2 separate regions of the Homo sapiens genome follow, and region 2 is linked to region 1. The links come from fine-mapping of genetic effects on gene expression. A gene starts in region 1. The other region holds a variant in brackets. All regions are shown on one strand. Distances are between the middles of the regions.

What was found. PIP is the estimated chance that this variant, and not a neighbour inherited with it, causes the effect.
Region 2: its variant is the best candidate, but not a certain one, in a credible set for the expression of RNF182 in substantia nigra (GTEx, PIP 0.88).

Annotation. Positions count from the first base shown.
Region 1 is chr6:13,922,466-13,927,855 of GRCh38, forward strand. RNF182 (ring finger protein 182) reads left to right here and starts at 2,487. Exons shown (of 3, transcript NM_152737.4): 1 at 2,487-2,558. RefSeq lists an enhancer at 1,382-1,882.
Region 2 is chr6:13,893,695-13,899,084 of GRCh38, forward strand. No RefSeq gene overlaps it. Among named protein-coding and RNA genes, the nearest start is that of RNF182, 29 kb to the right of the region's middle. The variant T/C (reference allele first, on the strand shown) is at 2,984.

The DNA of each region.
Region 1 (5,390 bases):
AAATCTGGTGTGTATTTTGCACTTACTGAACATACCAATTCAGTAGCTAATTCATATGTGGCTAGCAGTTACTGAATTAGACTGTGCAGCTCTAGATCTTTTTAGGAAAGCAAATTCATTATTTTAACCTCATTTCAAAAATGGTGAGAATAAGAAAGACTAGTCATGTATCCACACATTAATTTTTAAGCTTTAGTATCTTCAGTTTCAGTTTAGCTAAACAGACTAAAAGCTGCCACTTAACCTATTCAAATGATATCCCCTGGTAAGTAAGGTGGCACATTTTAAGATGGTTTCCTGACAAGTCTTTTAATTTTCTCCAAGAGGCAGAATGGAAGCAGACCTTAAGATAAAGCTAAACCTCTTTTGGAAAAATGAATGTCTGGAAGAATGTCTCACAGAATAACGCAGGACCAGGTCACTAAGCAATGCTCTAAGTGGGGACACAACGTGGACTTTTCCAAGCCTTCAGCTGAGGGCAGGGATGGCCAAGTCAATGGTCCCTCCCTGTTCTGTATTCAGTTTTTGATCAGGCAGTAATGTGCATGCAGGTCAACAAACATTTATTAAAGCTTTTTGTTTTTGCTTCTTCATTGATAAATTACTAATAAATGCTCATTTGAAAAAGCCAAACAAACCAAATATGTGTACTAAATTGTACATCGTAAGAGGTAACTGTCCCTTCAATTTTTTTTGTAGTTAACAGGTTACCACTTCTAGCAATTAGGTAGGCATTCTTATAGACCTTTATCCCTATGTTTTTGTTCTGTTCCTATATATCCAGTTTTTTTGTACAGAATGGGATCACCCACACATACGGTTCTGAGCCCCCCTTTTCCATTTAATAAGAAATCAATATCTATGAATTTTATATATTTTATTCTTATTAATGGATGCATAGTATTACATGGTATGAAGTGCCACATTATTTAACCATATCACTATTGATGGGCATATAAGTTGTTTCAAACATTTACTATTACAAAACTTCTGCAATGCATATCCTTTTATATCTATCATTACACATTTGTGTGTTTCTGTATGACAGATCTCTAGAATTGAGATAGCTGGGAGAAATGTATGTGCATTTTGAATTCTGGCAGGTATTGCCAAATGCTTAATGGCCTGCCAAAAAGACCTTGTCTTTTGACTTCATCTGGAATATTATTGACTTCATTCAGAATATTCCCATTACAAGAAAGTGGCCAGTCTCTCCGAGGAACAAACTGTTTTCCTTTTCCACCATGAAATAGATCTTATCTTTTCATTAGTTAATATAGGTGTACCTTCAAATGGCAATAACATTGTTCTGCTTTGTGGCTTCTCAAGTAGTAAACCCAGAAAACATCAGCTACCGTGGATTTTATTATAAATCATTGACATTCCTTTGGTGATTCACAAATGCCAAAAAATAAATGTCATGTTCCCCAGGGTTTGAAGAAAGACACTGTAGCTTTTGGATTCAGCAACGGATCTTTCAAGAAAACAGTATGGAGGGATGACTCACTCCCCCCATGGAGGCTGCCCTCTAGTTCGTCCTTTAGAGGAAGCATGACCAAGGGTCTGCTGGTACTTTTCTCTCCCTCTCTAAGAATTTCCTCAGGAGAGGAAAAAGTTAGCTTTCTTTTCTCTGCTCCTGAGTGCCATGGCCTGCAGTACGTGACCAGTCCTTGGCACAGAGTCACTCAGGGCTCATGGTAGATGCTTAGCGGTCACAGCCAGTAGCTGCGCAGTGTGGCAGCAGCTGAGATCCATACTGCAGCCTGAAAGTTGTGTTTCAGCTTCTGAGGTTACAAGTGTATCCAGTGTTTACATCAGAGATAAAGCCCCCTTTCCCCTCTCTCCTACGGGAGCCCTCAACAAGACAGATACACGGGTTGGGTGGAGTGAGACCACATCCAGCAGAGGCAAAGCTTGCTAAAAGAGAGAGGAGGAGGAGGGGGAGAGGGAGGAGGCGGCACGGCGTCCCTTGGCAGCTCCGTGCATGCTGCGGCAGTTGCAACAGGAGAACCGAGTACCAGTTGCTCAACACTTTATCACTTTGCATTGCTCTTTCTCCTCCCTTAAGTGAATTTCCATTTTGAGGGTACAGCTCCACAGGAGAAAGGTGTGGTGGTGGTAGTGGTGGAGGGTGTCTGTGGGGGGGATGGTGGTGCGACGGGAGTTGGAATGTCCAGTGTGGGGAAGCAAAGGAGTGCCTACTAGGATGCGAATACCACTTGGCCCTGGGCTCGCTCCGCTTTAGCCTTCCCCTCTCGCTGGGGAGAAACAGGCGGTTTGTGAGGGAGACTGAGAGAGGGGCGTGTTTGTGGTGGTGGCGGCCCATCGGGGGTCCTTGTCCTCTCCGAATACCCGGACTGCTGAGGGGAAGGGCCGGGGGGGCCCCGGCGGTTGCCATGGTGACGCAGGGTCGGCGGCTCAGCGCCGTAGAGACAAAGCCGCCCGCCCGCCAGCCCGCTAGCTCCTCGCGCGAGCTCCTCCTCCACGGGAACCTCCCTCCCCTCCCAGGCGCCGCCGCAGCCGGAGCGGCTCCCGGGCCCTGGGCCGCCGCCGGCCAGGTAAGGCGATCGCGCCCGCGGCCGGGGAGGGGTCGGCGGGACGCCGGGCCTCCCCAACGCTGGGGCAGCAGCCAGCCCCGCAGTCCTGGACGGCGCCGGGCCGCCCAAGCGCGCCGAGGAGAGGGGGCGGCAAACTTCGGGCCGAGCGGCGCCGGGGCCCGCGCGCGGAGTCTCCCTCCGGGCACCACGGGGGCCGCCGTCCTGGCACCAACTTGAGGGGCTGTGCGGCGGAGGGCGGCTGCGGAGCGCCCGCGCGGGCTGCACCTGCTCAGGGAGCTGCCCCTCTGTTGTTGTTGTTATTTTCCTTCTTGGCGTGCCATCGAGGCTTTTGGGGGAAAAAAAGGTATGAAAGTATTTACCTTTGGACTTTCATGTTTCATGGCATTCTCTTTGAGGAGGGGTTGGGAGGGTAGTAAGAGGGACAAGCGAAAGATTTTTACGAATCTCTGAAAAGTGAGCCCATTTTTATGCCTGTGGCTGAAGCATTTTGAGGAGGCTTCTGAAGTTCGTTTGGATATTGAATCGAAAGACCTTTTTTTCTTTGGAAGGTGCAGTTGCACCTATAACTGGATGGTAAGGGTAGCCCGGCTTTCCCCGACTAGCAAGACCAGAATGTAGAGCAGTACCGATACTTTGTCAAGGAGATACTTGGCACCGAGGTCATTGCTTTTGTTTCTAGAAGGTATTGTGTTCATGCTGTAAGGAACTGGAAAGTGCCTTTTGTTTTTATGTGTAGGGAGGCAATCCAAAGCACCTCTGGAGGCAGGTAGCTGGGCGGTGTTTGCATCGGTGTTTATGAGTGGGATGATGAGGACCACGATGCGGTTGCCACTGGGGCACTGGATAGGTTATAGGTACCTTTCTCAGTGGCCCCAACCCTTGCAATCATTTCGTGATAGTTTGTTGCAGACGCGAAGCACAGATTTAAATTGTGACTGTGAAGACTTTTTTTTTTGGTACTTAGACATCATCTTACATGTAGTAATATGAAAGAAAACAGATACATTTTCAGAAATACAGTTGATCAATTCAGAAGGAAATTGTATATATGTTAATAAGATTTGTTTTAAATCATATTTAAACAATATGAGATGTCATATTGATAACTGGAAAATAATCTAACATATAAAATTGTATATCCAACTTAGTAAAATAATGTATAAGTTGGAATAGGTCATTTAAAGAACTATATGGAATGCAAGAAATTATATTTTTGCTAGAGAGTAATTAATGAAAACAGTACCACTGATCATTTTGAATTGCAGTTAAGTTGATTGGAATTCTGCATATTACAGCTACTTGAGGTGTCAGGCAAAGAGTGATTATTTAATATTCCTCTTCCCTCTTTTGGGATTTCAACACCTGTTAGCCTGCTGATTACTAGGTTTCTCAGTCTGTTCATATTTGCCAGCAACTTCAAGTAATGCCACTTCATTAGAAGATTGTATTGGAAACTAAAGGATTGAAGTTGCAATTAACAGTTTGCAGGTTATTTCACAATTGGGCTTGTTTTTAAACTGAATTTTACCTGTGGAAGATTCACAGATGCTCTGCTAAATACTCTTTCATGACGGTAATAAAATCGTACATTGATTAAAACGAAGTAGATCTGTTTTGAGAAGATAAACGGGAGAGAAAAGTATTTTCTCACTTAAGCATGAACAGCAAATAGGATATTGAAGCCTAGGCACATTATATAGACAGAGAATGTAGTTTTATGTTTTGTACTAAAAATAAATTATTTTGTGTGTTTGTGTGTGTGTGTGTGTTTTTTTTTTTTTCCTGAGGGACCAACAGAACAGCTTTATTCAGATCTTTGTTAGCAAAACCAGTATTCAAGTTCAAGGACTTGGTCCGTGCTTTCTGCCAGATGAAACCCACACTGTGAGTTCTAGCCTAAACATTTATGTTGTGGCCCTTAATCTGAGTGCTGAAGAACGGAGATATCCATGGTGAATTTAGCACAGTAAGGACCGGTGCTTTGCCTTTGCTGCTAGCTCACACGGGCACAACATTCAATATAGTTTGGCTTCTTCAGAGCTGCATCATTTTCTGCCAAAAAATAAAGTCGGTATACAGAAATCAACAATCATGTATTGCATGCACTGCTTGGTTGTAGTGGCTTATTAATAAGAGCTCCGAAGCATGAAATGAAGCTTGTGTCAGTGCAGTGGAAAACAATAATCTGGCATGTTTATATGTGTTACTAGTGTTCTGAGGTATGTGCATAACCAGATAATGAAAGAAAAAATACTATGATATCTGCAATATGTCCTTAGAAAATGCAAACAGCAATTGTGTTTTCTGTCCATGGTTTAGCCACCTGGTGGAAGCAGGCAACAGCATTGCATATCCCCAGGTGTAAAATACTAGTCATCACTCTTGCTGATTCACGGGAGTAGGAGTCTTTTCCTGCATTTTAGCTTACGGGTTTTAATTTTATGACGTAAAATTGGTCCTAATTTTTGGTATAAGCTGTAAAATATGGCCTGATAATTGTCACCATAGCTGTATTCTACCTGAAAGAATTCTGTAATTCAGTTTATGAAGCATATCCAAAGACAAAAAAAAGCCACAAATGTTCCTGTTTAAGTTAGGATTAACATTATGTTTGTGCCATTGAAAGTCAGTTGTTTGTAACCATATAAGCCTGCATAGGCAGCCTAAATAAAGCCACTGAAGCCTTTATTGACTGTTTCTGGGTCAACATTCTCTTGCAATTTCTAGTTGCACTGTGATAACATGATTACTGGTTGGTAATTTAGCATCTAGTGCAATGTGTTGTAGCATTTATAAAAGCACATTTGTGAAGGATGGTAGTTTTTAAATGAT
Region 2 (5,390 bases), 29 kb before region 1:
ACTTTTAATGTAGTCTTTTTAAAGAAATCCTTTTGGTCCAGAGGTCATAAAGATTTCCTACTATCTTCTAAAAGTTGCAGATAGGGCCTTTAAGGAGGTAATTAAATGAGGTCATATGGATGTGGCCCTAATCCAATAGAACTGGTGTTTTTATAAGAAAAGGAGATGAGGACGCAGATGTATGCACACAAAGAGAAGGCCATGTGAGGACAGAGTGAGGGGGGCCATGTGCAAGCCAAAGAGAGAGGGCTTAGGAGAAACCAAACCTACTCACACATTGATTTAGGACTTCCGGCTTCCGAAACTGTGAGATATAAATTTCTGTTGTTTAATCTATGCAGTCTGTGGTATTTTGTTTTAGTAGCCCAAAGAATCTAATACATCCTCTCCATGTCCCCAAACACAGACAATTTGCCATGACATCTCTGACATATATTGAGTGTCCACATAAGCATGGGGCTGTTTTTATCGTGTTTCATTTTTGGCTATCTCTGCATGAGTACCAAAGATATATAACTAGTCTTCATGCTTGGTATGGCGAATCTTCCAACTTTGTTTTTCTTCACAATTATCTTGGCTATTTTTGTCCCTTTTGTCTTCCTCGTGTATTTGGAAATCAGGTTGTCAGGTCTCACCAAAAATGTCATAGAGTTTTTATTGAAATGGTATGTATTTAGAAACTAATCTGCAGAATACTGTATTCATCCATACATGAACTTGGTACATCTCTTCATTTCTTGAGGTTTTCTGTCAAGTGGTTCAATAAAGGTGTATTGCTGTTTACTTAAAGATCTCATACACATTTTGTTAGATATATTTCTTGTTACTTTATGCTTTTTTATCAGATTTAATTTTTAAGAAGATAAATTGGGTGAAATAAAGGATGGGAAGAGATTTGGAAACAGAGTAGTCAGATGGTAATTTCAGTTTAATTAAGTTAAATGAAACCATAAGAGTTTGAACTAAGACAGTGGTAGTAAGTTTAGAAGAAAGGAGTCTTCCTGGAGTAATTGCTGTAATATAGGTTTAATATTGAGTGTGTATGAGAGATGGAGGTGTCCAATAGGAAATTGAGAATATTTTTGATATGGAGTTAACATAAATGATCTGGTTGGAGATGTGTGTTTGGGAGTCATTAGCATATTCTTTTGATTTATTTTTAATTTGTATTAAAACTTAAGTGGGGAACTGGGATGCTCATTATTGCATAACCTTAAAGACCCCAACAGTGTGGATCTGCTATGTTAAAGTATAGCTCCAGTATATTGTGTGTGGGGCCAGGCGTGGTGGCTCACACCTATAATCCCAGCATTTGGGGAGGCTGAGATGGGAGGGTCACTTAAGCCCAGGAATTCAAGACCAGCCTGGACAACATGGTGAAACCCTGTATCTATAAAAACTTTGAAAAAAATTAGCTGGGCATGGTAGCACATGCCTGTGGTTTCAGCTACTCAGGAGGATCACCTCAGGAAAAAAAGGCTGCAGTGAGCCGTGATTGCACCACTGCACTCCAGCCTGGGTGACAGAATGAGACCCTGTTCCAAAAAAAGGTATATTATGCACAGGGAAGAGTGTATTCGTTTCCTGCCATAACAAAGTACCATAAACTGAATGGCTTAAATAACAGAAATTTGGCTGGGAGCAGGGGCTCACACCTGTAGTCCCAGCACTTTGGGAGACTGAGGTGGGTGGATCACCTGAGGTCAGGAGTTTGAGACCAGCCTGACCAACAGGGTGAAACCCTGTCTCTACTAAAATACAAAAAAAGATTATTGGCAGGTGCCTATAATCTCAGCTACTCAGGAGGGTGAGGCAGGAGAATTGCTTGAACCCAGGAGGTGGAGGTTGCAGTGAGCCAAGATTATGCCACTTTATTCCAGCCTGGATGACAGAGTGAGACTCCCTCTCAAAATCAATCAATCAATAAATAATAGAAATTTATTCTCTCATAATTCTGGAGGCCAGAAGTCCAACATCAAGGTGTCAGCAGGACTGTGTTCCTGGACCTGCTCTTGGGGAGGATCCTTCTTTACCCTTTCCAGCTTCTGGTAGCCCCAGGTGGTCATTTAATTGTGGCAGCATAAATCCAATCTTTGCCTTCATCTTTATGTAGCCCTCTTCTCCCTGTGTGTCTGTGTTTTCACATGACATTCTCCTCTCTGTGTCTCTTTCACCTCTTCTTCTAAGGACACTAGTCATATTGGATTAAAGGCTCATTCCACTGCAGTATAACTTCATCTTAACTTAGCTACTTATATCTATAATGACCCTATTTCCAAATCAGATCACATTTTGAGGTACTGGGGGTTACTCTCCCCTCTATGCAGTGGCTGCCACCCACTTTCAGACTGACTTATAGTTCCTGGCTGATAGAATTGAGAAAGGAGGAGCAGGGAAGAGAGGGTCAAAAGATGGCAAGTGAGCAAAGTAGGTGGGCTTTGTGGGGTTTTATGTGCCTCTGCTTGGACCCCTGGCCATTGTACTCACCAGAAAAGCAGCCTGTTGTCCTCAGAAATATGGGAACCCAAGCCTGTAGATGCCTTGGGAGACTCCAGGGATAAAGATACCTACAAACTTGGATGATTCTACTCCTTGGATGTGTTTGCCTCAGGTTGTTATTAAGCTTCTTGCTGTCACCAAAGGGGGAAAACCAAAACAAAGCACTAGGATTTTTATTTTTTGGATTTTAAAAAAATTAATTTTAAATTTATAATTGACACATAATAATCATACATATTCTTGGGGCACATAATGATGCTGTGATACATATAATATACAGTGATCAGATCAGGATAATTAGCATATCCATCATCTCACACATTTATTATTTCTTTGTGATGGGAACATTCAATATCCTTCCAGCTATTTGAAACTATATAATATATTATTATTAACTGTAGTCATCCTATGGTTGTATTAGTCTGTTCTCATGCTGCTAATAGGAACATACCCAAGACTGGGTAATTTGTAAAGGAAAGAGGTT[T/C]AATTGACTCACAGTTCAGCATGGCTGGGGAGGCTTCAGGAAACTTACAAGCAAACACGTCCTTCCTCACATGGCAGCAGCAAGAAGTGCTGAGCAAAAGGTGGAAAGCTCCTTATAAAATCATCAGATCTTGTGAGAACTAACTCCCTGTCATGAGAACAGGATGGGGGAAACCACCCCCATGATTCAATTATCTCCACCTGGTCCCTCCCACGACACATGGGGATTGTGGGAACTACAATTCAAGATGAGATTTGGGTGGGGACACAGCAAAATGATATCAGGTTGTATAGAACACTAGAACTTCTTCCTTTTCAATTTTTTTATTTTTTATTTTTACTGAGCTAAACTTTTTTTTCCTGAATTTTCCTCCCTCTTTGCCCATTTTTCCCTCTGTAGCAATACCAGATTGTCTACAGTCTCTTTCATAGGAGAAATTTTCCAACATTTGAAGACATCAATCATGTGGTTTCTTAACATCTCTTCACATGACATGCTCCCAGGCTCCTTCACTACTTGCCAGTACTATTACCTACCATTTACCGAGCACTCACTGTATGCTAGCCAACATGTTAAGCACTGGACAGACATCATCCTGTTTAATCTTCAGAACAACACTGTGAAATAAATATTGTTACCTCCATTTTAGTGTTGAGGAAACTGAGGTCCAGAGAATTAAGGAACCTGCCCAAAGACACACTGCTGGCAAATAGCAGAAGTAGGATTTCAACATGTGATTGTACGTGTGTTAATTGAACAGTCCAAATGTGCTGGAGTGTGAACATGAAATAGTCTTATCTTTCTCCGAGTCCTTGTCTCCAGACTGTACTATGTTGACCCTCCCTTTCTTTTTGGCAGATGGATTCCCTACAGGACTCATGAGCAGATCTCATAATTTCTGGGCATGTTCCACACCTTGGAGTAGGAATCAGTTAGGGTTGTTCTTGGCTGCAACTAACAAACTACTAGCAGTGGCTTAAGCACGGAAGAACTTAATGATCTCACAGGTGACCTGGGTAGGGAAGGGCCCTGGTCTACTCTACAGCTCTTCTAGACTCTCTCACCTTGGAGTCCAAACGCATGGCCTTCCTTTGGAACACCTTCTCTCTCTCCCACTTCGGGCTCAGCTCCTTTGCAGTGAAAGATTGGAAAGAATAAACATCTCTTACTCAATGACCTATGGGTGCAGTCCCCTTTTTGTTGTTTGTCTCTGCTTTTCTTGCTTCCATGGACTGGCCTTTGAGGTCAGGTGTGTGGCAGGATCTGAATGCTAGCTCTCTTGAGCTACATGCATGTTTTTTGTTTTGTTTTGTTTTTTAGAGCCAGCAATGCTTCTCCAGGGAACAATTCCCTGATACTGGAGAGTAGGATCAGCTTGCCCATTTGCACTCTTCCTTAGTGCCTGCCATCACCTCTGCAACCAGGCTTTCTGCTGCTTGGGTTCTTTTGCCCGGTGGATTGCAATAAGAAAATGGCTCAAGGTTGACTTTCTTCCAGCGAATCTGTTGGCCGATGGGGCACTCCTGCACTCCTGCTGCACCATATGATGAAAGGCAGGCTGATCTGCTGTGGTTTCTTGCTCCACTTTACCATCTCACTCTAGTCATTATTGTAATTCTTTTAATTTAAGGACATTCAATGGGAGTTTTATTTAGAATACCTAAGAATTCCAAATGGATCAAATCTCAGTGATAGGGAAATGGTTTAATAAAATGTAATTCAATTTTACAATAAAATAATTTGTGGTCACTAAAAATCATGTTTTTAAGGAATAGTTAATTTCATGGGACTATGTTCACAATATAATAGGAAAAATTGCTAGTGGTTTACAGTATAATCCCAAATTTACATAATACACATGAACACACGCACACACACACATGCACTAGTTCATCTTAGAAGAAATACAACACAATGTTAATAGAGGTCTTGTCTGGACAGCAGGATTATAGGTTACTTTAATTTTCTTTGTTATAGTGGGGTTTTTATTTTTGTTTTCCTTCTCCCATTTTCTGCAACCAATATATATTGCATTTTTAAGCAAGGGGAAAAGATTTTAATTCTATCTGAATTTTAAGCGATATTACCATAAGTCATAATTTTTTGCCACTTGTAATAAAGGCCATGATCTAGGACTTTTCCATTAGAAATAGTGTGGAAACCATTTTGAGAATGAAAAATGATTAGGATGAGCAAAGAAATGCCTGTCTAAGCATTTCACCAATTGCTAAAGGGATCTGTAGTTAAGATCAGATACTGCTCTATGTTATTTATAACTGTGGTATGTAATAATAATTCAATTAACTACACAGTAAATTGAGTATACTTCTCATTCCATAGTGTGGCTCCAGTTATTCTTGCTAAATCCTCTTGCTGTCTTGAAAGCTTTGAGATTAAAAATCCTTTC